Homo sapiens: one gene and its partners. The protein of the gene in region 1 interacts with the protein of each later gene in a biochemical or structural test. Each region holds a gene or a part of one and is shown on either strand. Other genes may lie near its edges.

Region 1 (7,320 bases):
CCGGAATGAGAAAGATAAGCCACTGCCTCCACTGCTGGCCCGAGTCGGGGGCAACATTGAGGTGAGAGCTGGGCCCAGTGTTCCTGAGTTCTCCAAGAGGGCATGAGGGCAGGAGGTTGGAAGTTGGTGCCTGGATCACTGAAGGTAGAAAGGACAAGACCTAAGAACCCTAGACATTTGTCGCCATTGCCTCCTTGCTCCCACCCTCAGGTGCTGGGCTTCAACACCCGTCAGCGGAAGGCTTTCCTCAATGCTGTGATGCGCTGGGGGATGCCACCACAGGATGCCTTCACCACACAGTGGCTGGTGCGGGACCTGAGGGGCAAGACTGAGAAGGAGTTTAAGTGAGTGTGGGTGATACAGGGCTGAGTTGGACGCAAGGGGAAGAGCTTTGGGTGTTCCTTTCTTCCTTGGGGCCGCCATATGATGTGACCTTACTCAACTGATTATCACCCTCCCTGTCATACAATACTTCCTGGCTCGATTTCCTGGGGGGTGGTCTCAGCCCACTCCACCTCCCCTCAGCCGAGCCTAGAGTAGAGGGGCCAGGCATCCTCCCCAGGGGAGGGGCGTTGAAGCAAGGAGCCTCTCCTGGGCTGTCCTAGCCTCACATTTACTTGACCACAATAACCTGGCAGGAGGAGCTGGTGGAAAGGATGAAGAGCTGACTGATGGGGCCCAGGAATTAAGTACCAAGGCCAAAGGGAAAGACCCAGGGGTGGGGCGCAGGGGGACAGTTAGGACTTGGAGGGCTGGTAATGGTGAGAGTGAGAGGCCCAGGGGAGGAGCCCTGGAGCACCTGGGGATTTGGGGGTTTGGGGGTCCTCAGTCATCCTCGCGCCTCCCTCACTGCCCTATACCCCTTCTGTGGCTCCCCTAACCCTCCTCCCACTCCCATGCTCCTTAGGGCCTATGTGTCTTTGTTCATGCGCCATCTGTGTGAGCCTGGGGCAGACGGCTCTGAAACCTTTGCCGATGGGGTCCCTCGGGAGGGACTGAGTCGCCAGCAGGTGTTGACCCGCATTGGAGTCATGTCTCTCGTCAAAAAGAAGGTATCAGTCTTCCTGTCACCCAAAGAATCAAGCTGGCTGCCTAGTCTCTGTCCTTCCTCTGCCTCTGTCCCTGAGTTGTAAGCTTGCGCTGGTGTGAGACGGAGGAGACTGGAGCTTCCTGTCTGTAAGCGCCTGGAGCTGACACCTAACCCTCCCACCCTGCCACCCCAGGTGCAGGAGTTTGAGCACATCAATGGGCGTTGGTCAATGCCGGAACTGATGCCTGACCCCAGCGCCGATTCTAAGCGCTCCTCCAGAGCCTCCTCTCCTACCAAAACGTCTCCCACCACTCCTGAGGCTTCTGCTACCAACAGTCCCTGCACCTCTAAACCTGGTAATCAGAAGTCAGGATGGTGGGAGAGACAGAAAGGGAGCCAGGAGTCAGGGCGGGAGAATCTCTGTCTTTATCACTGTGCCTTCCCCTGCAGCTACTCCAGCTCCAAGTGAGAAAGGAGAAGGCATAAGGACACCTCTTGAGAAGGAGGAAGCTGAAAACCAGGAGGAAAAGCCAGAGAAGAACAGCAGAATTGGGGAGAAGATGGAGACAGAGGTGTGTGGCTCCCTGGATTCCCCTGTGGAGCGGGAGGGGAGGGGGCTTGGAGGCCAGGTACCTGGGAGCCCTCTGGCTCATCCTGACCCCATTGTCCTCTTCCAGGCTGATGCCCCCAGCCCAGCCCCATCACTTGGGGAGCGGCTGGAGCCAAGGAAGATTCCTCTAGAGGATGAGGTGCCAGGGGTGCCTGGAGAGATGGAGCCTGAACCTGGGTACCGTGGGGACAGAGAGAAGTCAGGTGGGTGCATGGCCTTAGGAGTGATGGGGGATTAGAATTTGGGATTTCCCTCTTCTGGGGTCAGGGGATGAGGGTAACATCCTCCCTTCCTATCCCCTACCCCCTCCCACAGCCACAGAGTCGACGCCAGGAGAAAGGGGGGAGGAGAAGCCGTTGGATGGACAGGAACACAGGGAGAGGCCGGAGGGGGAAACAGGGGATTTGGGCAAGAGAGGTAATGGGTGGAAGGGACCGGACACCTGGGTCCCAGAGGGCATCAGGGGAGGTGGAGTCTGGGGAACCGAATGCTTGGGTCCTGGGCGGGTAGCTGTTTGAAAGGCCAGTACAGTACAGTACAGATAGTAGTCTTGGGACCTGGGAGGAGGGTGTCCTGAGGTGTGAGCTTTGACCTGTCTGTCCTAGCAGAAGATGTAAAAGGTGACCGGGAGCTTCGACCAGGGCCTCGAGATGAGCCACGGTCCAATGGGCGACGAGAGGAAAAGACAGAGAAGCCCCGGTTCATGTTCAATATCGCCGATGGTGGCTTCACAGGTTGGGGAGACTCTCGCTGCTTTCTGCTCCTCAAGGGGATCTGCTCATCCTCATGGGGTTTCTCGTTTTGCCTGAGGCTTCCTGCTACCTTTAATTCCAAGTAACTTCCAATGAAGTATGTTGCATGCTGACTCCGATCCTTGCTCTAAATCTTTCTTAAGTATCCCTCTTAACTCCAAAGCTGGCCCTAATCCCACCTTTATTCTTAATTCTAACGAACCTGGTTAGAACTGAGTTTGTTCCAAACCTAACCTTTACCCATTCCTCTTCAGGAGCCCTTAGTTCCCTTTCATTATTCAGTTTCTCCATCTCTACCTGTCTGTTGGACTGAGTGCAGTCTGCAAAACCCTGTTACCTCTTCTGTCTGCTGCCTTCTTTGCAGAGCTTCACACACTGTGGCAGAATGAGGAACGGGCAGCTATTTCCTCGGGGAAACTCAATGAGATCTGGCACAGAAGACATGACTATTGGCTTCTGGCTGGGATTGTCCTGTATCCTTTGATACACATGCAAGAAGGAAAAGGTTCTCTCAAGCTGGCAAAAAAAAAAAAGATGATTTCACACCCAGGGACAGGGCTAGTGCCACACTTTGGGGAGTCAAGCCAAAAGGAAGAAGTGTTCAAAGCCAAGCCCATTCCTGTTAAATTCCTTGATGGTTCCTTTTCCTTCATTGGTAGCCATGGCTATGCACGGTGGCAGGACATCCAGAATGATGCTCAATTTGCCATTATCAACGAGCCATTTAAAACTGAAGCCAATAAGGGGAACTTTCTGGAGATGAAAAATAAGTTCCTGGCCCGGAGGTTCAAGGTGGGAATGAGGGAGGAAAGGAGCGGGTTATAGACGGGCTTGGGTCAGAAGTGAGACCAGATCTAGTTGGAACCTAGGGAAGGTTAACACCTTCAGGGCTGAGGTGATACCTGGGGCCAAGACCAAAGTGTAACCTTGTGCTTGGGAGTGTGATCTGGGTCAGGGTTGCTGCTAGGTTCGCAGTCGGTTTGGAGCTGGGAGTGCCCTGGGCCAGCAGTGAGGGCAGGGTGGGTCTCTTGCTATGTCCGCCCCCCCAGCCCCTCACCCACTGCTGGCAGAGCCCTACCTTCACCTCCCAACTCTGTGCCCTCAGCTCCTGGAGCAGGCGCTGGTGATTGAGGAGCAGCTGCGGCGGGCGGCCTACCTGAACCTGTCGCAGGAGCCGGCGCACCCCGCCATGGCCCTCCACGCCCGCTTCGCCGAGGCCGAGTGCCTGGCCGAGAGCCACCAGCACCTCTCCAAGGAGTCGCTGGCGGGGAACAAGCCGGCCAACGCCGTCCTGCACAAGGGTAAGGGCCGCGGCGGCCCCGCGCGGGGGAGGGCCCACAACGCTGCGTAAGTCTTCACCCCGCACCCCTCAAAATCTTCCCACCCCCTGACCCCTCTACCTGCTGAACCATCCCCCTCTGACCTCTAACCCCACTCCTACCGACCTGGCACCCCCTTGGATTTTAGCCTCTAGGACTTGTGCAAGCCAACCCTCATCCATGTCTGATAGCATTCACATCCGTGCCCAATAGAGGGACCTGCCCCAGCCTCTGTGTCCCCTCCACACAGTGGGGCCTCTTCACTGGCAGTGGAACTGCATGCCTGCCATACTGCTTAACATCATCCAGTTAGGGGCCTTGGACTGTGAATGCACCATACAGATCCCTGGCTGTGATCAAACAAATCACATTCCCTCACATGTGTTTCACCCCATAAGGCAGAAACTACCACCCATCCAACCCTCTGGCCTTACCCCATGAAACTTCCCTTTGACCTTCGACCTTTCCTCCTACCCCCTCTCACCTTGCCATTGATAGAGATTATATCCCAAAGCCCTCTAACCATCTAATCCTGCCTGGTGTAGTCACTGACTCCTGGCCCCTTTGATCCCTGTTCTAATTCCTTGAATCTGTAATACTGACCTTCTAACCTCCCTCTCCCCTTACATATTAAAACCGTGATTCCTTAAAGCTTTGACACTTACCACCTCCCATGCCTCCTGACTATTTCCTCCCCATCATCCCCAACCCCAAACCTTGCTCTTCCAGTATGAGATGTTCTGACAACTCCCCGCCCCCATGTCTTCCAATGTCCCCCCATCTTCCTTTCCTCCATGCTCCCTTTTTCTTTCTTCTTTCTCTCCATCTGTCTTCTGTGGTAATCTGGTCTCTCTGTCTCTTTTCCTGACACTTTTTCTTTTCCCCTGAGTTGCTTCTGTTTTCCATCTACTTCTTTTACTTTCTTGATCTCTGGTTCTTTGACATCTGTGTTCTCCTCTCTCGCTCTTTTTCTGCCTGTATCTGTCCATCTGATGCCTCTCTTTTCCTGGCTCCATCTCTGTATTTCCCTGTCTTTCTCTTGCCCTTCTTTCTCTGTGGCCCGGGCCCCAGTTCTGAACCAGCTGGAGGAGTTGCTGAGCGACATGAAGGCGGACGTGACCCGCCTGCCAGCCACGCTGTCCCGAATACCCCCCATCGCAGCCCGCCTTCAGATGTCCGAGCGCAGCATCCTCAGCCGGCTGGCCAGCAAGGGCACGGAGCCTCACCCCACACCGGTAACCCTCTTTCCCCCTAGCTCCAGTTTTCCCTGTTTGTGTTCCTCCTGCACACATACAAACACTTCCATCAGAATCCTATACAATATGGAAAAACAACTTGCTAGAACACAGTCATCACCCTTGAGTGAGTCTCCCTGCCTGTGTATCCTACCCTTAGCAGTTGTGGAGTGTGGCTCATAATGTCTCTCCTACAGCTTCTTTCCTCTCACAGACTATGAACTAACTCCAACTTCTGCTTCCTCTCTGTTCCAGGCCTACCCGCCGGGTCCCTACGCTACACCTCCGGGGTACGGGGCGGCCTTCAGCGCCGCACCCGTAGGGGCCCTGGCCGCCGCAGGCGCCAATTACAGCCAGATGCCTGCAGGGTCCTTCATCACAGGTCAGCTGGTGTTTTCCTACCCCCTGCTACTCACACTCCTCCTTTGCCAAACTTTATTTCTGCTCAGCTGCCCTTTAACTGCTCTAGTCCATCTCATTTCCTTGGTGGTATCCGGTGTTTTATGGGATAGAGTTGTTCTAGGCTGTCCCCCCACCCATCCCTTTCTTAACCCCTCTTCAGTCCCCTTTATTAAAAACCAGAGTTTTAGTAGATCTGTGGCTTGGTGTCTTCTACCCGAGCCACCTCCCTCCGGGTTCCTTCAAGGGAAAGTGAATATGAAACCCGAGGGGTTAGAGAGTGGGAACATGTGTTCAATCATGTAGCACAAAGTGGAATCTCAGGGAAAGGGGTTTGCCCGGGTCTTCCCTCCCTCACGTGGGACAACGGGAAGTGGCAGGAGGTGACCTAGAAGTGAGAATTCACCATTGTCATGAAGTGACGTTTGAGAGTGATCTGGAGATTGATCTTTCCTTACCCCTTTCCCAAACAGCCGCCACCAACGGCCCTCCAGTGCTTGTGAAGAAGGAGAAGGAAATGGTGGGGGCATTGGTGTCAGACGGGCTGGATCGGAAGGAGCCCCGAGCCGGGGAGGTGATCTGTATAGACGACTGACTGGATCCCAGGCCTGCCCTTCACCCAGGCCCCGTCCCCGAGGCCGACCCCCAGCTCAAGCGCTGGGGCCTGCTGCCAGCCCTCCACCTTCCCCACCCCTTGGGCCATCACTGGGCTAGGAACCCCTTTGCCCCTCTCTGCAGCTCCTCTCTTCAAGAAGGGCCCTTTGTCTTTCTCCACTCCCACACACCTTTCCCACCAAGCCTTGAAGACTGTGCTGGTGAGAAGAAGTCTGGGTGGGAGATGGCTGGCAGGGTCTTCCAAGTACCTTCCTCCCACACTGCCAAGTATACACAACTTCCCAGTAAATGGTTGTGGGGAGGAAAGAGGTGGAGCCTCCCCAGCCGTTTCCCTGCAGAATCAGCTCTGTCTCATGTGGAAGTGGAGAATCAGCCTTGCCTGGCCTTTAGGAACTTTTGTGGGGAAGAGAGCTTTGAAGAGAGGAGGGGGACTTTAGAGAGGGATGAAAATGAGCCCTGGGAGGGAGGAAGGGACGAGGAGGGGTGGCTGCATGTTACCGTCCCCTACCTCTCCCCACGTGGAGGGTGGAGCAGTTATGAGGGAGGAAGTCAACTGCTGTTCAGCCTCAGAATAAAGGTGCCGTTCACTGGCTCAGTTACCTCCTGTGTACCGGCATCTTGTGTTGGGAATGTTCCCCCCTCCCTAGGGACCAAGGACCACCCCTACAAAAAGAGTAATGGTTGGGTGATACTCCCTCAAGCCAAAGAGGAGCTCCCCAACCTGTTCTAGGGACCCAGGTAACCTAGAAGGGTGGGAGAGAATACAATGGGCCAGATGTGGTGGAAGCCCAGCTCTGGGGCTCAGGTTCCTGGAAGACTTCTACTACCCTCCCTCCTCAAGGCCTGGATACAGACTAAATTTGTATAAGTCAGGCAGGGGACCTAGTCAGGGTCTTGGGAGCTACCTTGTCGTTGGGACCAGAGCAAAATAGTGGAGGGCAGGCTAGGGAAATGTGGGCACATCCCCCCTCCCAGGAGGGGCCGGGGAGAGTGGCAGTTTGCATGGCGAACCCCCCACTTCCTCTTTGCTGCCCCTTCACTTTCTTGCTGCCCCTTTCCCAGTCTCTCTTCACACCCACTCCTGGTCTGTCCTGATCCCCTCTTCTGTATCAGGTTTATTGGTTGTACATATAAATTATACTTTCCTTTCTGTGTGCTCTGTTATTTTTTATGGGGGGGGGGAGTTTTTGGGGGGAGGGATAAGAAAGGTTGTTGCTTTCTGCCTTTTCTTTTTAAAAAAATCCTACAACTTTTTCCTTTTCCTCATTTTTATCTCTTAGATTATTCACTAAAACTGAGGTTCTTCCAGCCCCAGCTATGTCATGGCCTCTGTAGAGAAGGAGGGTGAGCAGCAGATACC
Region 2 (7,320 bases), on another chromosome or scaffold:
ATGTAGTTAACATTTCCTGCCCTGAAAGAAGGACAAGCTCAGGAAGAAATAAATTTTCAGGTTTCATGGTTTCAAGCAGAACAGAAATAAACTTGCTCTGTGATTTAAATTAACGCAAAACAAACACCCTTTACACACATCACATACACATATTCCCAAAAAAAGGTCAAAAACAAAGTTGTATTGCTTTTTACAATGGCATAATGGACAGTTAGATTCTCAAAACACTTTCCCACTAGAAAACCAGTATTTGGATGAGACAAAATCAGTAAAGTATCATAGCAACCACATACACAGGAAAAGCCATTCAAATGATGTTTTAGTGAAGAAAATACCATCTTGTTTTTGACAATGTTTTTACTTTTGGAGATGATAAACATAAACGATATGCTATCAAGAAATCCAAAAGGTATAAAGTCCCTTGACTCCAAGTAATGTGTCATACCTGAGTAATAGCTTGGATTATAAGCTGCACTTCTTGTGGAACATGTAAAAGATCGGTCCAAATGTCCTTGCCTGGAAGATAAAATCTAAACAAAGCAGAAGATTTTTCTTAAGTCACATTTTTTTTTTTTTTGAGACAGTCTCACTCTTGTTGCCCAGGCTGGAGTACACCGGCACAATCTCTGCTCACTGCAACCTCCGCCTCCTGAGTTCAAGTGATTCTCCTGCCTCAGCCTCCTGAGTAGCTGGGATTACAGGCACGCGCCATCACACCTGGCTAATTTTTGTATTTTTAGTAGAGACGGGGTTTCACCATGTTGGCCAGGCTGGTCTTGAACTCCTGACCTCAGGTGATCCGCCCACCTCGGCCTCCCAAAATGCTGGGATTACAGGCGTGAGCCACCGCGCCCGGCCATGTCACTTTTTTAACAATAAAATAAAAACATATACTAGGAAAAATATATAATTAAACAAGACTATAAGCCAGGTGCAGTGGCTCATGCCTATAATCTCAGCACTTTGCAAAGCCGAGGCAGAAGAATCACTTGAACCCAGGACTTCAAGACTAGCAATGGACAACATGGAGAGACCCCGTCTCTAAATAAAGACTATAGCAGAACTAAGACTATTTCAGAACTCAATATAATTATATTTATATATTATACGTATTAATACTACATACTAACAAGAAAGGAAAACACATAGACAATCTAATGAAATAATTCAGGCTTCAAGGAAAAAAACAGGCAAAATATTTGTTATACAATTTAATTCAAAGAATGTTCACTAGAAGGTAAATATGTATTTAGTACATCCTGTCTGAAAGCCATTTATAACACATATTAAAAAGGTTGAGAAAAATCAATCTGGTTTTGGTTCTTTTGATAACTTTACAGAGATAGCTCTTAATCAGAGGTGGTGCTATACCCTGAGTACATATCTGGAAATGTGTGGATATATATTAACTATTAAAATGATTATGGGGGGAGGTGGATGTTACAGGAATTTAGTGCCTAGGGCTCATGGATGCTAAACATCCTACTATAATTAGGAAAGATTCACACATCAAAGAATGATCTCATCCAAATTACTAATGGCTTTCCTATTGAAAAAGACTGCTTAATAGTGCTCCCCACACTTTCATGTGCATATAAATCAAATGAGGATGTTTTTAAAATATAAATTCTGATTCAGTGATATGAGGTAAAGCCTGAGAGTCTGCATTTCTATCAAGCTCCCAAGTAATGTTGATGCTGCTGGTCCCGAACTAGACCTTGAGAAATCAGGCATTATAGCACAGACATCTTAGAGCTGCTGTATATTTTCACATTTCTCCCCCATTTAATGCTCAGCAATTTTAGGTGCTAGTTTAAAAGAACACTGATCTGCATATAAGTAATTTTAAAATTCAGAGGAACAATGAGTTTTCTAAAACGTACTGTTCTCAAAGAACTCATACATAGCCTATTTTGTCTTAACGTCCTTGTCTTAATTTTAATATATAGAGCAGAATTCCAAACACTAAAATTACTGATTCTAAAAAGTTTATAGCTATGCTTGTATTTTTGAGTGTGGCATTTAAACTACATAAGATGAAAACTTATGATGAGCCCAAATAATTAATTAATTAAAGGAAGAAAATTGCTCCTAACCTGCTGGTCAGAAAGCGAAAGCTGGTCCTCTGGAAAACCTGTTTGTGGCAGGAGGTGGGTTTTGAATACGGAGTTGTGGTTCACTAAAGTCACTTCTCCAGCATCCATCCTCATCCTATCAGCAATATCATCTGGGGAGACAGTCTGGATTAGTTCAAGTCACATAATTCTTCAATAACGTTTTTCCTATGAACCAATCTTTTCACCTAATAAAAACAATTCCCACCCAGGCATGGTGTCTCATGCCTGTAATCCCAGCACTCTGAGAGGCTGAGGCAGGAGGATTTTTTTGAGGCCAAAAGTTCAAGATCTATCTAGGCAACATAGTAAGACCCTGTCTCTACAAAAAAATTTAAAAATTAGCCAGCAGGTCAGGTGTGGTGGCTCACACCTGTAATCCCAGCACTTTGGGAGGTTGAGGCGGGTGGATCACGGGGTCAGGAGTTCAAGACCAGCCTGGCCAACATGGTGAAACCCTGTCTCTACCAGAAATACAAAAATTAGCCAGGCATGGTGGCGGGTACCTGTAATCCCAGCTACTCGGGAGGCTGAGGCAGGAGAATTGCTTGACCCTGGGAGGCAGAGGTTGCAGTGGGCCAAGATCGTGCCACTGCACTCCAGCCTGGGCAACAAGAGCAAAACTCCATCTCAAAAAAAAAAAAAAAAAGTTAGCCAGCCAATGTGGCACGTGTCTGTAGCCTCAACCACTTGGGAAGCTGAGGCAGGAGGACTGTTTTGAGCCCATGAGTTCAAATTTACAGTGAGCTATCATCACACCACTGCACTCCAGCCTGGGGGACAGAGGGAGACCCTATGTCTAACAATAATAATAAAAAAAGACAAAAAAGAACTTGAAGAACAACTCTGCAATAAAATAAAATCCCTCTTTCATAGCTAACCAATGGCAAAAATCTCATATTGTCATTGTCAAAAGAGGTCCATGTGCAGAAATTGGCTCATTTGGAATTAATTGAGGCCATCTACCAAACAGTTCAAAACTTGTACACATATAAAAACAGCTTAATTTAAAGCTTTAAAAATAACGAGACCAGGCAAGGTGGCTCACACCTGTAATACTAGCACTTTGGGAGGCTGAGGCAGACGAATGGCTTGAGCCCAGGAGTTCGAGACCAGCCTGGGAAATAAGGCAAAATCTTGTCTCTATTAAAAAACAAAACAAAACATTAGCCAGACATGGTGGTGCATGCCTGTAGTCCCAGCTACTCAGGAGGCCGACCTGGAAGGATACTCTGAGCCCGGGGAGGTCAAGGCTGCAGTGAGCCATGACAGAGTCACTGCACTCCAGCCTGGGTGACAGAGTGAGACCCTGTCTCAGAAAACAACAACAACAACAACAAAGAAAAACACAAACAAAAAACAAAAATGCTCCCAAAAGAAACTTTTTAAATATTTTAACTATAGAAAAAATTTTAAATATAAAAAAATTGGGGGAAAAAATTCACCATTCAGTAACACACACTGTTAACACTGGTTCATTTCCTGTTTTAACACAAAGAAGTGCTTTAAGAAGTAATCCACCTGCCAGGTGTGGTGGCTCACACCTGTAATCCCAGCACTCTGGGAGGCTGAGGTGGGCGGATCACTTACTTGAGGCCAGGAGTTTGAGACCAGCCTGGCTAACATGGCAAAACCCCATCTCTACTAAAAATACACCAGGCATAGTGGCACATGCCTGTAATCCTAGCTACTTGGAGGCTGAAGCATGAGAATCGCTTGAACCCAAGGCAGAGGATGGAGTGAGCCAAGATAACACCACTGCACTCCAGCCTAGGCAAGAGAGTGAGACCCTGTCTCTAATAATAATAATAATCTGCCTGAACATTTTTTTAAAAGCATAATTTTATTCATATTGCTCTTAACAGGTATCAGCTCAATAACTATAATATTATGGCAGAATTTTACTTCAGAACCATTTTTGATACCTTTGTTACTATAGAAGAGCTAGAATAGAAGCAATAAACGTAACAGAATTCAACGACTTACACTGCTATCAGCAATGAGAGAAAATGGAAACAAATGAACAGGGAAGGAGAAGGCAGACTAAGGAAAAGGAAAACACAGAATAGAGAGAAAGCTAATGTGAATGTAAAAGGAACATATGGGATGTTATAAGACCTAAGTGTATAGATTTTTCAACTTATTCCTAAATTAGCTACTAGTCCTGACCTTATATTGATCCCCTTAACAGACATAAAGTACTACAAATGAAATAGTGAAAAATGTCCTAACCACAATTCTCAGTAACACTAGCTAAATGAAATAGAATATTTACATTAATCAAATTATTTATCATTTAGAAGTAGTATAACATAGTACTAAGGAACAAGAACTCTTGGCTGGGCGCAGTGGCTCACCCCTGTAATCTCAGCACTGTGGGAGGCCAAGGCAGGCGGATCACGTGAGGTCAGGAGTTCAAGACCAGCCTGGCCAACATGGCGAAACCCCATCTCTACCGAAAATACAAAAATTAGCCGGACTTGGCGGCGCACGCATGTTTGTAATCCCAGCTACCTGGGAGGCTGAGACAGGGGGATTGCTTGAACCCAGGAGGCAGAGGTTGCAGTGAGCTGAGATCATACCACTACACTCCAGCCTGGGTGACAGAGCGAGACTCCGTCTCAAAAGAAAAAAGAGAAAAAAAAAAAAAGAACGAGAACTCTAGAAAACTCTAGAACCAGAGTGCCTAGGTTTAAATCCTGGCTCAGCCAGTTATAGTACATGACTCTAGGCGAGCTTCTTAACTTCTGTGTCTCAGTTTCCTTGTGATATAATAGGGATAACAACAGTAACCTACTTGGTAGGTACTATTAGGTACCCTTGTAAGATGGTTATAAGGATTAAATGAACCAATATATTTTAAATACTTAGAACAGGGTCTAGTACACAGTAAATGTTTGCTAGGGTATACTTAACTTTTTCAATACAATCAATGAGATAATACTCCTAAATGAGCATATAAACAATGTTCTAACCAAAAGATAATTATGTGGGCTGGGTGCGGTGGCTCATGCCTGTAATCCCAGCACTTTGAGAGGCTGAGGTGGGCCGATCACCTGAGGTCAGGGGTTTGAGACCAGCCTGGCCAACATGGCGAAACCCCGTCTCTACTAAAAATACGAAAATCAGCCGGACGTGGTGGCACATGCCTGTAATCCCAGCTACTTGGGAGGCTGAGGCAGGAGAATTGCTTGAACCCAGGAGACAGAGGTTGCAGTGAGCTGAGATTGTGCTACTGCACTCCAGCCTGGGTGACAGAGCAAGACTACGTTTCAAAAATAGCAATAATAATAATTTTGTTTGGTATATAGTATTACATAATTAGGATTAAAATTTCTCTTAAAATTATTATTAAGCACAAAGATACAAATACTGAAAATGTTAGGAAAACCCATTCTTTCACTACAGCTTAACCAATGAAAGTAGCTAAAAGGATTCAACAGCTAGTTAGTCTTACCCATTTCAAGTCTTTTCACATCACTGACTTTAGCAAAGATACAAAGTCCTATAAAAGAAGACACAAAACAGAAAAATTACATACTGAAACACCTACTTCACTTAATTTTAGAAGGTGCAGCCACTAGAAGTGACATTTGTTTGTGTTCTTAGTGGAGAAAAATCTAAGGTGGTAAAGAGTTGACTTGATGGGAAAAGAGTAAAAACTAAAACTAGCTTGAGGTACTTCCAAACATTTCTGCAACCTGTACTACATTAAACAGCAATTACAGACTACGCACAGAATCACAGAATATTAAAGCAAGAAGCAAATTGGGAGCGCCAACCCTTAAGAGACTGAGTGGTTTGCATAAAGTCATAATGTTAGCAACTACACCGAAATTATAACCTAGAAATTCTTCCCAATCCATTGTTCTATTACCTCATGCTAAATCACTTCATAAACAAGTGACAGACTTTGTGATGGTCCTATTAAGACTTTTCTTCCATGTCTTACTCAGTAGCCTGATACTCTAATGACAATCAAGAACTACTCTGGAGTAATACAAAGTACTTCCCCCAACATCATCAATCAAACTGCTACAAACCAAAGCCCCTTTGCCTATATAAAAATTACTGTCTCCTCTGATGTATCCACTTTTTCCACAAAATAAAGATGTTAAAAACCAAACTGCTGGCCGGGTGCAGTGGCTCACGCCTGTAATCCCAACACTTTGGGAGGCCGAGGAGGGCAGATCACTTGGCCAAGGAGGTCAAGACTTGGAGGCCAGCCTGGCCAACATGGTGAAAACCCATCTCTACTAAAAATACAACAATTAGCCAGGTGTGGTGATACGTGCCTGTAATCCCAGCTATTCAGGAGGCTGAGACAGAAGAATTGCTTGAACCCAGGAAGCAGAGGTTGCAGTAAGCCGAGATCATGCCACTGCACTCCAGCCTGGGCGACAGAGCAAGACTCTGTCTCAAAAAAAAAAAAAAAAAAAAAAACCAAACACAAAAACACAACCAAACTGCTTGGAACTAGGTTAATAAACATATCCTCGGCACATATGGTCTTGGTAGATTTCCAAGAGGAGGAGGCTACTAGGGATGGTAATAGTCACACCTATATATATTTATAATCTTATAACCATATTTTTAAAAAATATTAAGCACTTCATCAACCACATAGCAATACTAGGGCTTCAATGTATTCATGAGGCTGGATGATGATAATAGGCATTCTTTGTGGTCACAATAATGAAAGTCACACAAAGGAAGGCAGCTTAAAGTTTTCTTGGCGTACGAGACCACGCCACTGGCCACTGCACTCCAGCCTGGGCGACAGGGCGAGACTCCGTCTCAAAAAAAAAAAAAAAAAAAAGTTTTCTTGGCATAGCTATAGACTAAGCAGAGTAATTATCTGATTACCTAGTCTTGCCAGGAAGGATCCCTAAAGAATTTAAGCCTTAGATTTATGCTTCAAATATATTTCCAAATGCTCAACTTAAAAGGCTTCTTTACTAAAAATTCTTCAGGTTATTCTTTCCCCTTCTTTCTTCTTTAATAGAGTAGACTCCCTTGGGTTCCAGATTAAGGGGGAAAAAATCTTATCAACTAATATATTAGCAACACTTTTTTGACATTTTAAAGTTGCTTCATAATTGTCATTACTAGCCTTTTTAAAATTATTATTAAGAAGAATGCCAACTTAAAAGCTTGGTGCCCAACAGAATAATCCCATGTCAATTTCCTTGCATTTTGTTGGGAT
Region 3 (8,231 bases), on another chromosome or scaffold:
AGACCTTTAATGGACTCACAGCTCCATGTGACTGGGGAGGCCTCACGATCATGGCAGAAGGTGAAAAGCACGTTTTATATGGCTGCAGACAAGACAGAGAGAGCCAAGCGAAAGGGATTTCCCCTTATAAAACCATCAGATTGCTGGGCACGGTGGCTCACGCCTGTAATCCTAGCACTTTGGGAGGCCAAGGTGGGTGGATCAGCTGAGGTCAGGAGTTCGAGACCAGCCTGGCCAACATGGTGAAACCCCATCTCTACTAAAAATACAAAAAATTAGCCAGGCATGGTGGCACAAGCCTGTAATCCCAGCTACTCGCAAGGCTGATGCAGGAGAATCTCTTGAACCGGGGGGCAGAGGTTGCAGTGAGCCGAGATCCTGCCATTGCACTCCAGCCTGGGCAACAAGAGTGAAACTCTGTCTCAAAACAAAACAAAACAAAACAAAAATAACAAATAAAAAAAAACCCCATCAGATCTCATGAGACTTATTCACTGCCATGAGAACAGTGTGCGAGAAACCGCCCCCATGACTCAGTTATCTCCCACTGGGTCCCTCCCACAACACATGAGAATTATGGGAGCTACAATTCAAGATGAGATTTGGGAGGGGACACAGCGAAACCATATCAGTGACCTTGAGCAAGTGACCCGGTTGAGCCCGTTTTTGGGACATCTTACCTGCAGACTTGAGATAATAACTTTGTGTTGTTTAAAGCTGCTACATTCGTGGCCATTTATTACAGCAGTGGCTAAAAACATTCACATGGAAATCAAAGTCAATATATGACAGATGATGAAATGAGCCTCTGAGAAGATAAGTGGGTTGTGGGGAAGGTAGGGGTGTCTCCCAAACCATTGCTGGAAGCACCAGGTGATGCATTCTGCTTTTAGCCCCCCAATTCATGGCTCTAGACGTCACTATCCTTTTGCTCACAAACATCCTTTTAGATAACTACCAGAAGTCCCCAAAGGGAGGAGCATGTCGGGCTACAATAAGCCCACTCCCCTGCTGCTCCTGGTGGAATCCTTGGTCCTTCTGAATTTGGCAGTGGGGTCACGGTTTCACACCCCATGCAACGGCAGCTCTCCTGGGAAAACTTTAAGGTGGGGACAGGGGTGACTGTGGATTTTCCCAATGCTTCTGGCTGGGTGCCCTGGCCACACCTAGGCATACCTGGTCACACCTGAGGATACCTGGGCACGCCTCAGGATATCTGGACACATGGCCAAACGAGAAAGCTTCAGTTTTCTCATCTGTAGGACAGAAGGTTGCAAAGGCTGGAATAACCTTTTTTTTTTTTTGAGATGGAGTTTCCCTCTTGTTGCCCAGGCTAGAGTGCAATGGAGCAATCTCGGCTCACTGCAACCTCCGCCTCCTGGGTTCAAGCAATTCTCCTGCCTCAGCCTCCTGAGTAGCTGGGATTACAGGCATGCGCCATTATTTCCAGCTAATTTTGTATTTTTAGTAGAGACAGAGTTTCTCCATGTTGGCCAGGCTGGTCTCGAACTCCCGACCTCAGGTGATCTGCCCGCCTTGGCCCCCCAAAGTGCTGGGATTACAGGCGTGAGTCACTGTGCCTGGAGAAGCCCTCTTTTTTAATTTAATTTTTTTATATAAAAATAATAAAGACAGGTTTTGTTATGTTGCCCAGGCAGGTCTCGAACGCCTGGGCTCAAGCAATCCACCCTTCTCAGCCTCCCAAAGTGCTGGGATTGTGCGCGTGAGGCGCTGCACCTGGCCCACAAGGAGCCTTCTTAATCCAACCTGGTTACTGAATCACACCTGAGCATACCTGGCGACACCTGAGCATACTTGGGCACATGTGAAGATACCTGGCACACTTGGCCAAATGGGACAGCCCCATCCCTTGGTCTTCCTGGCCTCAGTTTCCTCATCTGTAGGACAGAGGGTTGCAAAGGCCACAAAGACCCTTCTTAACCCAGCTTGGTCACCTGGCCACACCTGAGGTCGCCGGGTAGGTCTCTGTATTCCAATCATCTTAGATCTGCACCAGAGCCCACCCAGTGGCTGGGTGCAACCTGCACACTGGGGGTGCCCCTTAGTGCCTGTTGAGGTTCTGTGGGGAGTGAGGCCTGGAGGGTTCAATTCCTATGGGAGTGGGGATGCATCCCAATGGGGGCCAAAGTTCCAGATAGGTTGTGGCCCTGCAAGGTGCCAGGGTCCCAGTGAGATGTGGAGTGTGGGGTTCTGGCTCCCAGCAGGGATAGAGTTCCTGGCTAGGGTCAGGTGACTTGCTGGTGGAGATTCTCACTCCTGGACCTCGGCAGGGGCTGGGGGGTGCCCATCGGCACGTGTATGAGGGTGCAGACCTAGAGTGAAGGTGGAGGTCTGGGTCCTGGGGATGATAGGGTTGGTGATTTAGGGTCCCAGTGTTGCAGGAGAGGGGTCCCGATCTAGCCCCCAAGAGTGGGTTCTTGGATATTGCTCAAGAAGTAATTCAAGGTAAGTCATAAGAGTACAGGGAAGTTTTAGTTTATTAGAAACTATTCCATTACATGCTGGGTGTGGTGGCTCATACCTGTAATCCCAGCACTTTGGGCGGCCGAGGTGGGCAGATTACCTGAGGTCAGGAGTTTGAGACCAGCCAGGCCAACATGGTGAAATCCCATCTCTATTAAAAATACGAAAATTATTTGGGTGTGCTGGTGCATGCCTGTAATCCCAGCTACCAGGGAGGCTGAGAGAGGAGACTCTCTTGAATCTGGGAGGTGGAGGTTGCAGTGAGCTGAGGTTGCGCCACTGCACTCCAGCCTAGGCCACAGAGCCAGACTCTGTCTCAAAAAAAAAAAAAAAGAAAAAGAAAGAAAGAAAAAAAAAGAAACTGTTTTGTCATAGAGGTGTAACACCTTGTGTTTGTTTTAAAGCTTCCTTCTATAGGGGTCTGTCTTATCTATGTAAAAGCTAGGTTATGTCTGACGGCGTGACATTTATTCCTTAGTTGATTTAGAGAGAGCCATCCTTTGCATTTTCGCGCCCAAGCACGTCCATGCATGACTGTAATTATCTTTAACAGCATATGTGGTTACGCGATATGGCGACATCCAGACATTCCGCTGTCGTCTGTGTTTGTCCTTGGAGGCATTATTAAGTCATTTCTTCAGCCGTAAACATCTTATGACCATGGGCCGTGACCGGCAAGGAATGTGTCTTCCTGGTTTTTAAGATGGAGTTGATGATTAAAATGGTGTCACCCCAGCTCTCCCAGGCTCCTGTCTCCCAAACACAGCGGGTGTTAGGATCTGTGTGGAGTCCCGGATGCCAGGTCTGGGGTCCCCTGGGGGACCAGGTGTGGGACTGGGAGGGTTGTGGTGGGGTGAAGGTCTGAGTGTCTGGGTGGGGGGTTCCATGAAGAATTCCAGTAGGAGTCTGCTGGGGGGTCCATGTGGGATTTCAGCCTTGGCCCTGGTAAGGGTCTGGGTGGGGGTTCTGTGCTGGTCTGGGGTTCCCTGAGGGAGCCCAGGTAACTCTGTGGTTGTCTGGGGTTCCCAACCAAGGTCTGAGTAGGGGTCTGCTGTCCCAGTAGGGATCAGGGTGGGGAGGGGGCTCGTGGTCCCTGAAGTAGTCTGGAGTTCTCTGCAGGGGCCGGGAAGGGGGTCTGTGATCCCTGCAGGGTTGTTGGGGGCAGGGAAGTGGAGGGGTAGGTTTGGTGGGTGGTGTCTGTGGCCTGGCAGGAATTGGGGTGGGGTCTGTGGTCTCAGTAGGAACTGGGGTGTGGGGTCCGTGCTTGGGGCAGGTTCTGTGGTGTCAGCAGGAACTGGGGTGTGGGGTCCGTGCTTGGGGCAGGTTCTGTGGTGTCAGTACGAATTAGGGTGTGGGGTCCATGGTCCTTACAGCTGTTCAGAGTCCTCTGTGGGAGTCCTGGTCCATAATCCTGGCATGGCTCTGGGTGGTTGTCTGGGGTTCCCTATGGGGTCCAAGTCCTTGTGGTCCCTGCTGAGGTCTGCGTGGGGTTACATGATTCTGGCTAAGATGGGGAGGGTGGTTCCCGTGGTGGTCCTGGTCCCCTGCAGGGTCTGGGTAGGGGATCTGTGATCCCATGGTGGGGGTCCTGGCTGGGGCTTGAATGGGGTTCCATGGTCTTGGCTGGAGTGTGGGGTCTTGGAGAGGCAGTCCAGCTGGGGTCTGTAGTCCTGGGGGGCGTCCTGGCAGGGGTCTGTGGTCTTGTGGGGTGCTGGCTGGGGCCTGTGGTCCGGGGGGTGGTTGTGATGGAGGTGGAGGTCCTAGAAGGGGGCCCCAGTAGGGGTCTGTGATCCTGGAGAGGGGTCCTGGTGGTGGGGGTCCCAGTGGAGGTCTGTGGTCCTGGGGGGCCCTGGGAGGATCTGTGGTACTGGGGAGTCCTGGTGGAGGTCTGTAGTCCTGGTGGGGTTCTTGGTGGGGTGTCTGGGCGTGCCCCAGTGGGGGGGCCTGTGGTCTTGGGGGTCCCAGCAGGGGTCTGGGGTCCTGGGGGGTGTTCTTGGGAGGAGTCTATGGATCTGACTTGGGTGCTGGCTGGGGTCTGTAGTCCTGGGGGCGTCCTGGCTGGGGCTGTTGGTCTTGTGGTGGTGGGGATCCCTGCTGGGGTCTGCAGTCCTGCCGGGAGGGGGAAGGGTCCCTGCTGGGGTCTGTGGTCCTGGAGGAGGTGTGGAGGGTCCCTGCTGGGGTCTGTGGTCCTGGGGGGGATTCCTGGCTGGGGTCTGTGGTCCTGGCTGGGGGTGTGTGTGGGGGGTCCCTGCTGGGGTCTGTGGTCCTGAAGGGGGGGTCCTGACTGGGGTCAGTGGTCCTGGGGGCGTCCTGGCTGGGGTCTGTGGTCCTGGGGGGGGGGGTCCTGGCTGAAGTCTATGGTCCTTGCAGGGGGGGGTTCCTGGCTGGAGTCTGTGGTCCTGGGGGGGGTGTCCTGGCTGGGGTCGGTTGTCCGCTCGGGGTCCCCAGTCCTGCAGGCGGTGCGGGATCCCAGAGGGCCCGGGCGGGGTCTGGGGTTGGGGGTTCCCCGCAGGCCGGGGCGGTTCGGGGCGGGCAGGGGGCGGTCCGGGGCGCGCGCGTTTCCGCCGTCCGTCCGGGCGGGCGGGCGCAGAGTCCCGCGGGCGGCGCGGAAGCGGCGGCGGCGCGGCCGGGGCAGCCATGTCGCCATTGTCTGCGGCGCGGGCGGCCCTGCGGGTCTACGCGGTAGGCGCCGCGGTGATCCTGGCGCAGCTGCTGCGGCGCTGCCGCGGGGGCTTCCTGGAGCCAGGTCAGCGGGGCGGGGCAGGGGTCAGGGCTCCGGGGACCCGGGTGGGCGCGGGCTGGCTCGGGGGCGGGGGCGCGGGGGCTCCGCGTGACCTTGGCGAGGCGGTGGCGCTCCCGGAAGTGGGGCTGGGCGGGGGTCGAGGTGTGGCCGGGGGTGGGGGGGGGGCGGCGTGCGCGCTGGGACCTCCCCGCCCCGCGCTTTCCGTCCCCGCCGGCTCTTCTGCGCGCCTGGCCCGGCCCGACCCGGCCCGACCCTTCCCTCCCCGCGCGTGTGGCCTCCCCGCCTGTCCCGGGTCGGGCTCCAACCAAGCAGCCCCCGTGCAGCCGCCCCCCCGCGCACCCTGACACCTCCGGGCCATGGCCGGGGACCCGGGGGCTCGCACGCCCCGCGCCCAAGACATCAGGCGGCTCTGCCTGCCGCCTGCGGTCGGCCAGTGACCGCGCGCCCCCGCCAGGCCCCGGAGGGGAGGAGCGGGCGTCCCAGGGACCTCGACCCCTACCCACCCCAGGGTAAGTGAGGATGGGCCCTTCTCCGGAGGACGTCTCCAGAGGGGGCCCAGAGGCGGCTTCTCGGGCACTGGGGAGCCACGGAGGTCTGGTGGGGAGGGCAGGCCCGTTAAGTGGCAACTTTGTTTCCTTGGCCTTTGTAAACATCTCTGAGTCACAGATCTCCAACTTTGCAGGACTCGTTCACTGTCTGAACTCATCAGTGATGACCGCCACTGTGTTTTGTGTATGCAGATAACTTCTGTTCCTAGATTTGCAGGTTCAGAATTTATTATTATTATTATTTTTTGTAATAGGAAGTAGAGATGAAGTCTTGCTCTGTTGCCGAGGCTACTCTCGAACTCCTGGGCTCAAGCAGTCCTCCTGCCTCAGCCTCCCAAAGTGCTGGCATTACAGGCACCAGCTACTGCATCCGACTAATGTTTTAAAGTTTTGTAGACGGGGTCTTGCTATGTTGCTCAGGCTGGTCTCGAACTCCTGGGCTCAAGCGATCTTCCTTCCTTTGCCTCCCAAACTGTTGGGATTACAGGTGTGAGCCACCACACCTGTCTAATGTTTTAATTTTTTTGTGTAGCAATAGGGTCTTGCTACGTTGCCCAGGCTGGTCTGAAACTCATGGGCCGAAGCAATCCTCCTACCTGGGTCCCCCAAAGTGCTGGGTTTACAGGCGTGAGCCACCACGCCTGGCTAATGTTTTAAATTTTTTGTAGAGATGGCATCTCACCATGTTGCCCAGGCTGGTCTTGAACCCCTGGCCTGCAGCAATCCTCCAGTCTGGGCCTCCCAAACTGCTGGGATTACAGACAGAGCGCCACTGTGCCCAGCCCATATTCTCAATTTAAACCTAGAAACCTGTAAACAATTATTTGTGAACTGGAATAAAGGGAATGTTAATTCCATGTTAGGTTAAATGATACTTTGTTTCAAAAATAACAGTTTTCCAAAACAGAGCGTTCAGAGGGTCAGTGTGGTGGGGGTGGGGGTGTACGTTGCCCTGAATGTCTTAAATGTCCAGCCTAAGAAGAGAGCTGTTATTTCTGCCTCTGTAGACAGTTTCATGGCATGTCAGGAGGCCTCTGGAAGACACTACTGCACGCCTCTGGGAGACTGGGAGTCAGCCAGGCGAAGCGCTTGGGTGCCTTATTGTGAAATGACTTTTGACTTCCACTCTGCACCCACTGAAGGAATCCCAGGGGTCCCAGCGCCACCCTTTGAGAAGCGTGCCTGGAGTGGATGTTTTAAAATGAGCCTCTCTCTCCCGCCTCTAGCCAGAGAAAAAGAGCTTTGAGTTTTCTGTGAGCTAAGCTTTTCTTTTTCTGCCAAACTGGCCTTCAGTATTTTTTTTTAAACCCACTTAGCATAATTACAAATGCATAGAAGAAGGAGAGTAAAGGGAACTGTAGTCAGGCTTTCGGAGGGCAGGAGAGCATGTTTGTTTGAAGTAAGTAATCAGTTGCAAGGTGAACGGTTTACAGCTGCTGAACAATTGTGTGGAGTCTCGCAGAAGATTATGTTTATCCGGGCAGTTTTGCTTACAGAAAGGTCCCCTTAAACCTCCTTAAGGGCCTGTGTGGGCCCTGGCAGAAGAGGCCGGGGTTCCTGCAGCAGCTCACCAAAATGCTGGCCTTTGAAAAACTTGCTCTTTGTGCATTAGAAAAAGGGCTGGAATCTTTTTTTTTTTTTTTTTTCCCATTTACTGATTAAACAACAACAGAAGGTTGTTAAAGAGGACGAGCTTCTGGTGAAGTCACGTGTCTGCCAAGGGAATCTGTACCCGGGTGTGTATCGAAACAGAATGGCCTTCTCTAAAGATTAACTTAAGTGGCTTGCCCTCATCGAGCCCCTTCCTATGTATGGATTAAAAATAATTTTCGATACCAGTGGAGGAATGCTGTTGTCCTTGGTCTGCTGGTGGCCAGCTTCCTAAACGGCATTTTTTATTTGCTTCTCTCTGGTAGGCCTTCGCTGTTGGTGAGGAAACATTGAACTTTGTCCAGGGCATTTGAGCTAAGCTGTTTGAATAACCAAGAGGGCCAATTTCCCCACTGCAGATTGGAAGCAAGGGCAGTTTTTTCTTAGAACTTCCAAATGGAGCGTGTTCTTCTTAGGTATCGTACAAAGGAAATGCCTGGGTTACACCTTCCACATGAGTTGACTTACATGGTATGAGAAGGAAGAAATTGTGGCTGGAATCCACTCCTAAATGGTGTCTTCTTACAGTTCATCATGGAAAAACAAGATAATTACAAATTAATCATAGATGTTGGTCATGCCTTTACAGAGGGGGTTTAGAAGCAAATTGAGAATTCCCATAAGAGGGTCTGTCTCTGTGTTCTTAAGACTATATCCATGCGGCCCATTCAGTAAGTTGTATCTGTTGGTTGGATTTTAAAATAGATGATTTAATCAGTGCATTTAATATCCTAATATGGCATCAAAACTTGAACATTGATATGGCCTGAAATCTGTTGAAAATGATCATATTGAGTAAAGAAAGT
Region 4 (7,320 bases), on another chromosome or scaffold:
ATTTGGGGTCTTTCCAAGGAGTTCCCTATGAATCTTTCAAAAGATGCAGACTTACACCTCTGGGCTTTATAGCTTTTTTTTTTTTTTTTTTTTTTTGCTTTATCATATCGTGTTTTACATTTTTGTAGTTCTTGTTCAGAAGTTGTTTAGTGCCTCCTGTTGACAGTGGAAACAGAACTAGGCTATTGTTTCAAAACACAGACACTAAATGAAAGGAATTATTACAGATTATAAATATATATTTCCTGGGATTTTATTTGGTGGTGGTGGTATTTTAAATTTGGATTACATCATGTCGCCATTCAACCTGGACTATCAGATTGTTGCTTAAAATAATAGCTTTAAATTATGAGAACCCCCAATTCAGGATTTTTGGTAAGCACTTCAGCTTCACTTGTAGGGGGCTGGTAATATGCATACCAGTGAGTTAGTTTGGGAAGACAAAACCTGTAATGAATATAACTTTTCTTTTTAAAAACAATGATTTACATTATGATATGGCTTTATATCATTGTTTTTATTGGTCTTAGTTTAATGGGTTTCCCAACATTGCAATGACAAATTTTAGTGAAGTTTCTAAGATAGTATTTTTCCTATTTTAAGTTTTATAAGAAAAACTATAAAATAAACCGTGTCTGTAAAATTATTGTCATCTGATCAGTTGATTAGATTAACAAACATTATGATTATGATTAACAAACAGTAAGCATATAGTTACTTCTTCAAAAGTCATAAAATTTCCTAGGTTAGGTTAACTAAATAAAAGAAAAAGCTTTCGAAAATAGTAATGGGTTCTTTTAAATCCATGGCTTTTTTCTGGGGAAATCCCTTCTGGATTAGGTTACATTTTATAATATTTCAAACACCATTCCATCAGAGACAGAAAAAACAAGAGTAAGTAAGACTCTGACTAACAAGTGGCCTAATTATTCACTTAGTTACTCTAGAAACTAAGTATTGTAAACATGGGCACAAGTTGGATCAACCAGGCCTGGAGTTGTGAGCAATTTGGTATTAATTTTATTTACAAAACATTAAAGCTTGATCACTCAATGTTCTTATCTTTGCTTTGGTTTTAAAATCCTTTCCTCTTAGATTCTCCTAATCCTCTAGACTTTATGGGATCACTATAATTCTGTTTTGCGCTGTACTACTTCTTGATTTTTTTCTTCTTTTAATAAAACAAAAACCCCATTGGAATAGCATAGTTGAATTGTTTATTATGTTTGAGAAATATTATTTAAACGATGTGACAGATGCCAAAGATTTTGAGTGTGCACTTATATAAAGGACATGGGTTCTTGTTCCTTTTCTTATCCTTAACCTTAAGTTTTCAACTTAAACCTTCACTGGTTGGAAGGTGGCCAAATGTGTAACTTGTCCCTGGTCTAATAGTAACAGCAGGTTCAGACATGCAGGGGAATAGGAAGGTGCCAGGTCCTTGGCCGTGTCTGTGGATACCCATAACAGCAGAACCAGTTTACAATACTAGAGCAACAGAATGCAGCAAACAATCTTGTTGTGCAAGTTTTCAAAGTTTTGTCTTCATAACCTTTGAAAAGATTGTTGAGGAGTTTTGTGTAAGTTTTGTAATCCAGTAGTAGTCTAAATCCTCTTGTTTCAGCCCACGTCTACCCATTCTTATTTCTGCAGCATATATAGCAGTGACGAGGATGATGAGGACTTTGAGATGTGTGACCATGACTATGATGGGCTGCTTCCCAAGTCTGGAAAGCGTCACTTGGGGAAAACAAGGTGGACCCGGGAAGAGGTAACTAATCATTTTATCAAGACGCAGAAAATAGATAGAGTGTATAATTTATAAAAAACAAAATTTCAACTAAACTACAGGTGCTCAAGCTCATTAGCAGGCTCCTTGAGATCTTATCCTAGCCCGCATGTGCAGCGTGCCCTATGCCCCCCACTTCATTATATTATCCATTTCCACACTATTTGCAGTTCTTTGAATGTCCTCTTCTCATTTTAGGCTTCATCTGTGTTTCCTTTTGCCTGTTGAGTTCTCATCCTTTTGTCCCACCTCTTCTTCCTACTTTTACATTACCCATGAAGGCATCACCTCTTCTGTGAAGCCATCCCTGGCTTCGCCGGACAGGATTGGATGCATCCTCCTGTGATCCCATGCATGGGTGCATGTTCTACTTTATTGTTGCTGGGACATATATACCTCCTCCAGCTGACTGCAAGTCTGTTGAGGGCAGGGCTCTTGTCTATTCATCTTTGTGTTTCCTGAATTCACAAATGCTTGGACCCAAAATAGGATATTAATAAATGTTCTCTCAATAAGTGAATGACTTGCTACTCCCAAAAACAAAACAAACAAAAGAATAAAACAAAACACTCAGAGAACTCATCTTTTTACAGTGTATTGATTTAATATCCTTGATATACTTAACAGAGCCATCTATATGAAGGTATGTTTTAAAATCATCCGATAATGGATGGAGACACATCTGCTTCTCCTGTTTCTTTTTCGGCTGGCTTATCAAAAGTTTGATTTTGTAGGAATGGAAAAATATTTTAGAAGCAAAATTATTAATATGTGGAGAAAAGTTTCTCTAATGTTCTTAAAATTTTTGCAACTAATTTTAGATGATTCATGTTACAATAAATGGTATTGGCTCTTCTTCAGTTTCACTGTTCTCTGCTTCATTTAAACCAGAGCTCCTTTTAACAGGCAGGTAGGATTCCCAGAGAGGCCCATAGGAAATTCATATTTTACCTATTAAGATTATCCACTTGGATAATCCTTATGATACGGAAATTCTGTTGTCAACATTGGTTTCCTAATTCTTGTGTCTGTATTGTACCAGGGACCTCCACTGTGTGTGAATGTTACCTTTGCAGAAACATAAGAAGGAATGCATTTATATACTTATGAACTGGTAGGATTGTGAACAGCATATAAACTAAAAGAACTGATTAGCTGGAAATGTTTAATGTCTTTTATGTTCTAACACATCTGGCCTATCTAAATCTAACTGATTTTCTTATATAGCTTTCAAATTTAATTTTAAAAATGGTCTTTATTTCTTTATAAAAAGTTAAACTAACTGGAAATATTCTATTTCTTGCTCAAGATCCTATTTATTACCATAGGTAAATGTGTACTGAATCTAGCACTGGAATGCATTTTTTCCTAACAGAGTAAAGCAGTTATTTATAATAAACACTCAATATATGCCAGGCATTATGATAAATGTTTTGCAAAATTGCCTCATGTAATCCCCAAATAACCCTGTTAATATCAGCCTCATGTTAATAAATTGCCCCATGTAATCCCCAAATAACCCTGTTAATTTCCATTTTATAGATGGCAATACTAAGGCCCAGAAAGGTAAAATGGTATACCCGCTTTACACAATTAATAGTTGAGTCAAGATGCCAACTCTGGTCTGATTCTAAATAAATCTATACTCCCAAGTCCGTATATTACATTAATATCTCCTGTATTCGGATACTTTAGAGAGACTTTTTATTCTAGATTCGTTCCCTCATTCACTTTAACTTGAACAGAGTTATATAGTAAATAACTGATATCCTAGGATTACCTTTAAATGTCTTAGGATGAAAAACTGAAGAAGCTGGTGGAACAGAATGGAACAGATGACTGGAAAGTTATTGCCAATTATCTCCCGGTAAGTTAGTAAGTTTTTCTTATAACGAAAGGAAAGCTTCTCCCAAAGATTTCTATAAAATATTCTAGGAGGAGTTATTAAGATAGTGTATAATTTACTCACATTTAAGAAGTGGGAGAAATGCCCTACCCATAACTTATATTTTATATTATAATGCATATAATTAAATTATTAGAATTTAGATTATTAGAATCGATTATTATAATTTAGATTATCAAATTTTAAAAACAGTTGCTTCTTGTTTTATCTTTTCATTTATAGGATAATTAGTATTTTGATGATTTGTTACATGGTAGTTGATTAAACTTGATATTTCCTCCAAGTCAGTTTTTCCTGAATTCCCTATTTTTGTCAATAGCAATACTTTTGGCACCAAGGTTTAAAATTCTGAAGACCTTTCTTGACTTATCACATTCCCCCAACCCCTACATCTAAGCAGTTACTAAGGACCCTGGAATTCCTTTATAGTCAGTCCCGTCCTTTTCATTCTCATGGCTGTGCTGAAGGTTGGGCTCCTGCCCTCTCATTTGGACTATCATATAACTTCCTAACTGGCTTCCCCACTTGTAGTTTTCCATTTTTCTTTCTTTTTTTTTTTTTTGTTTTTTGTTTTTTGTTTTTTGAGATGGAATCTAGCTTTGTTGCCCAGGCTGGAGTGCAGTGGCACGATCTCAGCTCACTGCAACCTCCGCCTCCCAGGTTCAAGCGATTCTCGTGCCTCAGCCCCCTTAGTAGATGGGATCACAGGTGCCCGCCACCATGCCTGGCTAATTTTTGTATTTTTAGTAGAGACAAGGTTTCACCATATTGATCAGGCTGGTCCCAAACTCCTGACCTCAAGTGATCTGCCCACCTCAGCCTCCCGAAGTGCTAGGATTGCAGGCATGAGCCACCGTGCCCAGCCAGTCTTCTACTTTTCCATTCATCCCAAACACCATTGGCAGGTGGAACTTCCTAAAATGCAGCTGTACCTTATCTTTTCAAAACCAACCACAGTGACAGAATCTCACAAATTAAGTAAACTGCCTTGACTTGGCACACAGAGGCCCTCCTCTATTGCCCCAACTTACAGCTCCAGTTCTGTTTCCTGCTTCCTCTCTCTAAGCAGGTTTGCTTGAATTTATTTCTGCTTTACCTCCTCTGGGCTTTTGCTCCTGGTCTTCCCACCTCCTAGAATATTCTCCCTTTATGTCACCAATTAAAGTTCTGTCCATCCTTCAAAGTCCTTATGAAGAGCTCTTCAAGACTCCTCCCAAGGAAACCATTTCTCCTCCTAAGAAGATGCTTCTCTCCTCACTTCAGTATCATTTTGCTTTGGTCTTTTCTTCCAAGTGAATCAAATTCAGCATCTGTGATAGTCAGTCATCTACTTGTCTTTTCCTTCTTATAAGTTTACAAACTCCTGTAACATAGGACCTATCTTTTATGCATCTTTTTTCTTTCTGCAATATAAATACTTTGGTCCTGGATTGAAGCACATCTCTTGTCTGAATGGGAAGCAAACTTTAGTCTTTTAGGGTGGTTTCCATGAAAGCCTGACAACATAGAATCTCTATCAAGCCTCAGGCTATGTAGATACTCTGCAAAAGTATCTGAGGTTAAGGTTAACTTGGCAGGCACATGTGTAGTATGATGGTCCTTTAGATCATGTGGCAGGAATGTTTCCCTCAGGAGGCAGAGTGTCTAATTTTAGATGCAACTTTGATATATTACTTGCATGTTCTGTAGCCTGTAAGTAATGAGGGATAGATGGGCTCTAAACATGCTCTAAAATGTTCTTAAATATTTTCACTGCATATGGTCTATGTGTGATTCCTATTACAACAAAAAATTCACGTGCTTATCACATCATATCTTTATGGTGGTGCATACTTTATTTGTCTAGAATCGAACAGATGTGCAGTGCCAGCACCGATGGCAGAAAGTACTAAACCCTGAGCTCATCAAGGGTCCTTGGACCAAAGAAGAAGATCAGAGAGTAAGTTCTTTCTTCATTGGTGTGTGACTCATAATTAAGAATATTCCCAAAATGCTAATATTTTCCTATTTGAGGAAGCAGGTAAAATGGGCAAACAGGAAGTAGAGGACTCTATTCCCATATTTCCAGTGAATGAAAGCAAATTTTGGAAATTTTCTAAAGATCTTGTAACACTGAAGAATGATTATACTGACTCATTACATAACTTTAAAACATAGGTTATTTTTGTGTGTTTATCTGAAGGTGATAGAGCTTGTACAGAAATACGGTCCGAAACGTTGGTCTGTTATTGCCAAGCACTTAAAGGGGAGAATTGGAAAACAATGTAGGGAGAGGTGGCATAACCACTTGAATCCAGAAGTTAAGAAAACCTCCTGGACAGAAGAGGAAGACAGAATTATTTACCAGGCACACAAGAGACTGGGGAACAGATGGGCAGAAATCGCAAAGCTACTGCCTGGACGGTAATAATATGTCAAAAAATATATTGATCGGGAAGAATGAGGGAGTGGGTATTGAACATTCTGCTTTAAATGTATGGTGAGTAAATTATATTTCATCAGTCGTAAGTGTTTTATTAGATAAACCAGCTACATAGCTTTTAGAGATTGAAGACATCTTAGAGTTTATTTGGTTGAGAACTTCCAGGATCCACCTGACAGTGAGCCCTGGGTGAAGACATTTAGCTTTCCCCAGCCTCAATTTCCCCATTTCCAAAATGAATCATACAGGGCCAGTGTTAGGATCAAGTAAAATGAATGTCAAAGGACTTGGTAAACTATAAAACTCTAAATGCATAGAAAGAAACTGAAGACAGTTTGTCTCTGGCAGTTCACGTAGCTGGTTAAGTTACTCAAAGGAACTCAGCTACCATTTTCCTGATAACCATCATTCATTTCTTTTATTTTTTTTAATTATTATTTTTTAGAGACAGAGGCTTGTTCTGTCACACATGAGTGACAGAGTGCAGTGGCATGATCATAGCTCAATACATCCTTGAACTCCTGGGCTCAAGGGATCCTCCCACCTCAGCTTCTTGAGTAGCTAGGACTACAGGTGCACCCCACTACACCCAGCTGATTTTAAAATATTTTTTGTAGAGATGGAATCCTGCTATGTTACCCAGGCTGGTATCAAACTCCTGGCCTCAAACAATCCTTTCACCTCCCAAAGTGCTGGGATTATAGGCATGGGCCACCATACCTGGCCACCAGTATTCATTTCATTATACCACTTTGCTTAATTTTTTACTTCATTGATTAAAGAAATAATGTATTTCTTGAATTCTCATACTACTTCCAGGTTTTTAAATAATGTCAGGGTAATAATGCTTTCTTTTTAATGAACAAGGCAAGAAAATGACCTCATTATGAGGGATAACTATGGAAGCTCATTTTGTCCCATTTTTCCCACTTAAGTAGTATATAACAGATTTTGTTCCTTTGGAAAGCAATACTTTTAATGATAAATCTTGCATTAAAATGATGTAGATCAAAAATATTAAAAATAGTTTTATTCTTGAGCTTCATAATCCAGGAGAAAGTTTATATAGTATTCTCTAGTGATGCTCCAAAGCATTTGCACCCTTGTGGTTCAGTATAAACTTAGAAATTTTAAGAGGTTGGTAAAAAAAGGCCTTTCCTCCCATATGGCCTGAGAGGATACACTGCTGATTCTTCTCAAAAT

What was found.
Region 2: the proteins of CHD3 (region 1) and SENP1 form a complex in vitro, tested with the Homo sapiens proteins (one study listed by BioGRID).
Region 3: the proteins of CHD3 (region 1) and ZBED1 form a complex in vitro, tested with the Homo sapiens proteins (one study listed by BioGRID).
Region 4: the proteins of CHD3 (region 1) and MYB form a complex in vitro, tested with the Homo sapiens proteins (one study listed by BioGRID).

What each region holds. Positions count from the first base shown.
Region 1 is NC_000017.11:7,905,646-7,912,965, forward strand, and holds the end of CHD3 (chromodomain-helicase-DNA-binding protein 3), read left to right. Parts: coding exon 1-61; intron 62-210; coding exon 211-344; intron 345-477; exon of another isoform or gene 478-615; intron 616-907; coding exon 908-1,052; intron 1,053-1,223; coding exon 1,224-1,386; intron 1,387-1,480; coding exon 1,481-1,602; intron 1,603-1,707; coding exon 1,708-1,843; intron 1,844-1,955; coding exon 1,956-2,057; intron 2,058-2,245; coding exon of another isoform or gene 2,246-2,248; coding exon 2,249-2,374; intron 2,375-2,756; coding exon 2,757-2,865; intron 2,866-3,051; coding exon 3,052-3,184; intron 3,185-3,497; coding exon 3,498-3,693; coding exon of another isoform or gene 3,694-3,739; intron 3,740-4,782; coding exon 4,783-4,946; intron 4,947-5,201; coding exon 5,202-5,328; intron 5,329-5,818; coding exon 5,819-5,940; coding exon of another isoform or gene 5,941-6,059; 3' UTR 6,060-7,110; downstream 7,111-7,320.
Region 2 is NC_000012.12:48,095,898-48,103,217, forward strand, and holds part of SENP1 (sentrin-specific protease 1), read right to left. Parts: intron 5,620-7,320; coding exon of another isoform or gene 5,576-5,619; coding exon 5,572-5,575; intron 3,258-5,571; coding exon of another isoform or gene 3,165-3,257; intron 2,241-3,164; exon of another isoform or gene 2,228-2,240; coding exon 2,097-2,227; intron 531-2,096; coding exon 446-530; intron 1-445. UniProt on the Homo sapiens protein: Protease that catalyzes two essential functions in the SUMO pathway.
Region 3 is NC_000023.11:2,497,816-2,506,046, reverse strand, and holds the start of ZBED1 (E3 SUMO-protein ligase ZBED1), read left to right. Parts: upstream 1-5,070; 5' UTR 5,071-5,121; coding exon of another isoform or gene 5,122-5,230; intron 5,231-5,421; exon of another isoform or gene 5,422-5,736; intron 5,737-8,231. Other genes in the region: DHRSX (polyprenol dehydrogenase), read left to right, coding at 5,122-5,230.
Region 4 is NC_000006.12:135,184,250-135,191,569, forward strand, and holds part of MYB (transcriptional activator Myb), read left to right. Parts: intron 1-1,653; coding exon 1,654-1,771; intron 1,772-3,584; coding exon 3,585-3,656; intron 3,657-5,541; coding exon 5,542-5,634; intron 5,635-5,877; coding exon 5,878-6,098; intron 6,099-7,320. UniProt on the Homo sapiens protein: Transcriptional activator; DNA-binding protein that specifically recognize the sequence 5'-YAAC[GT]G-3'. Plays an important role in the control of proliferation and differentiation of hematopoietic progenitor cells.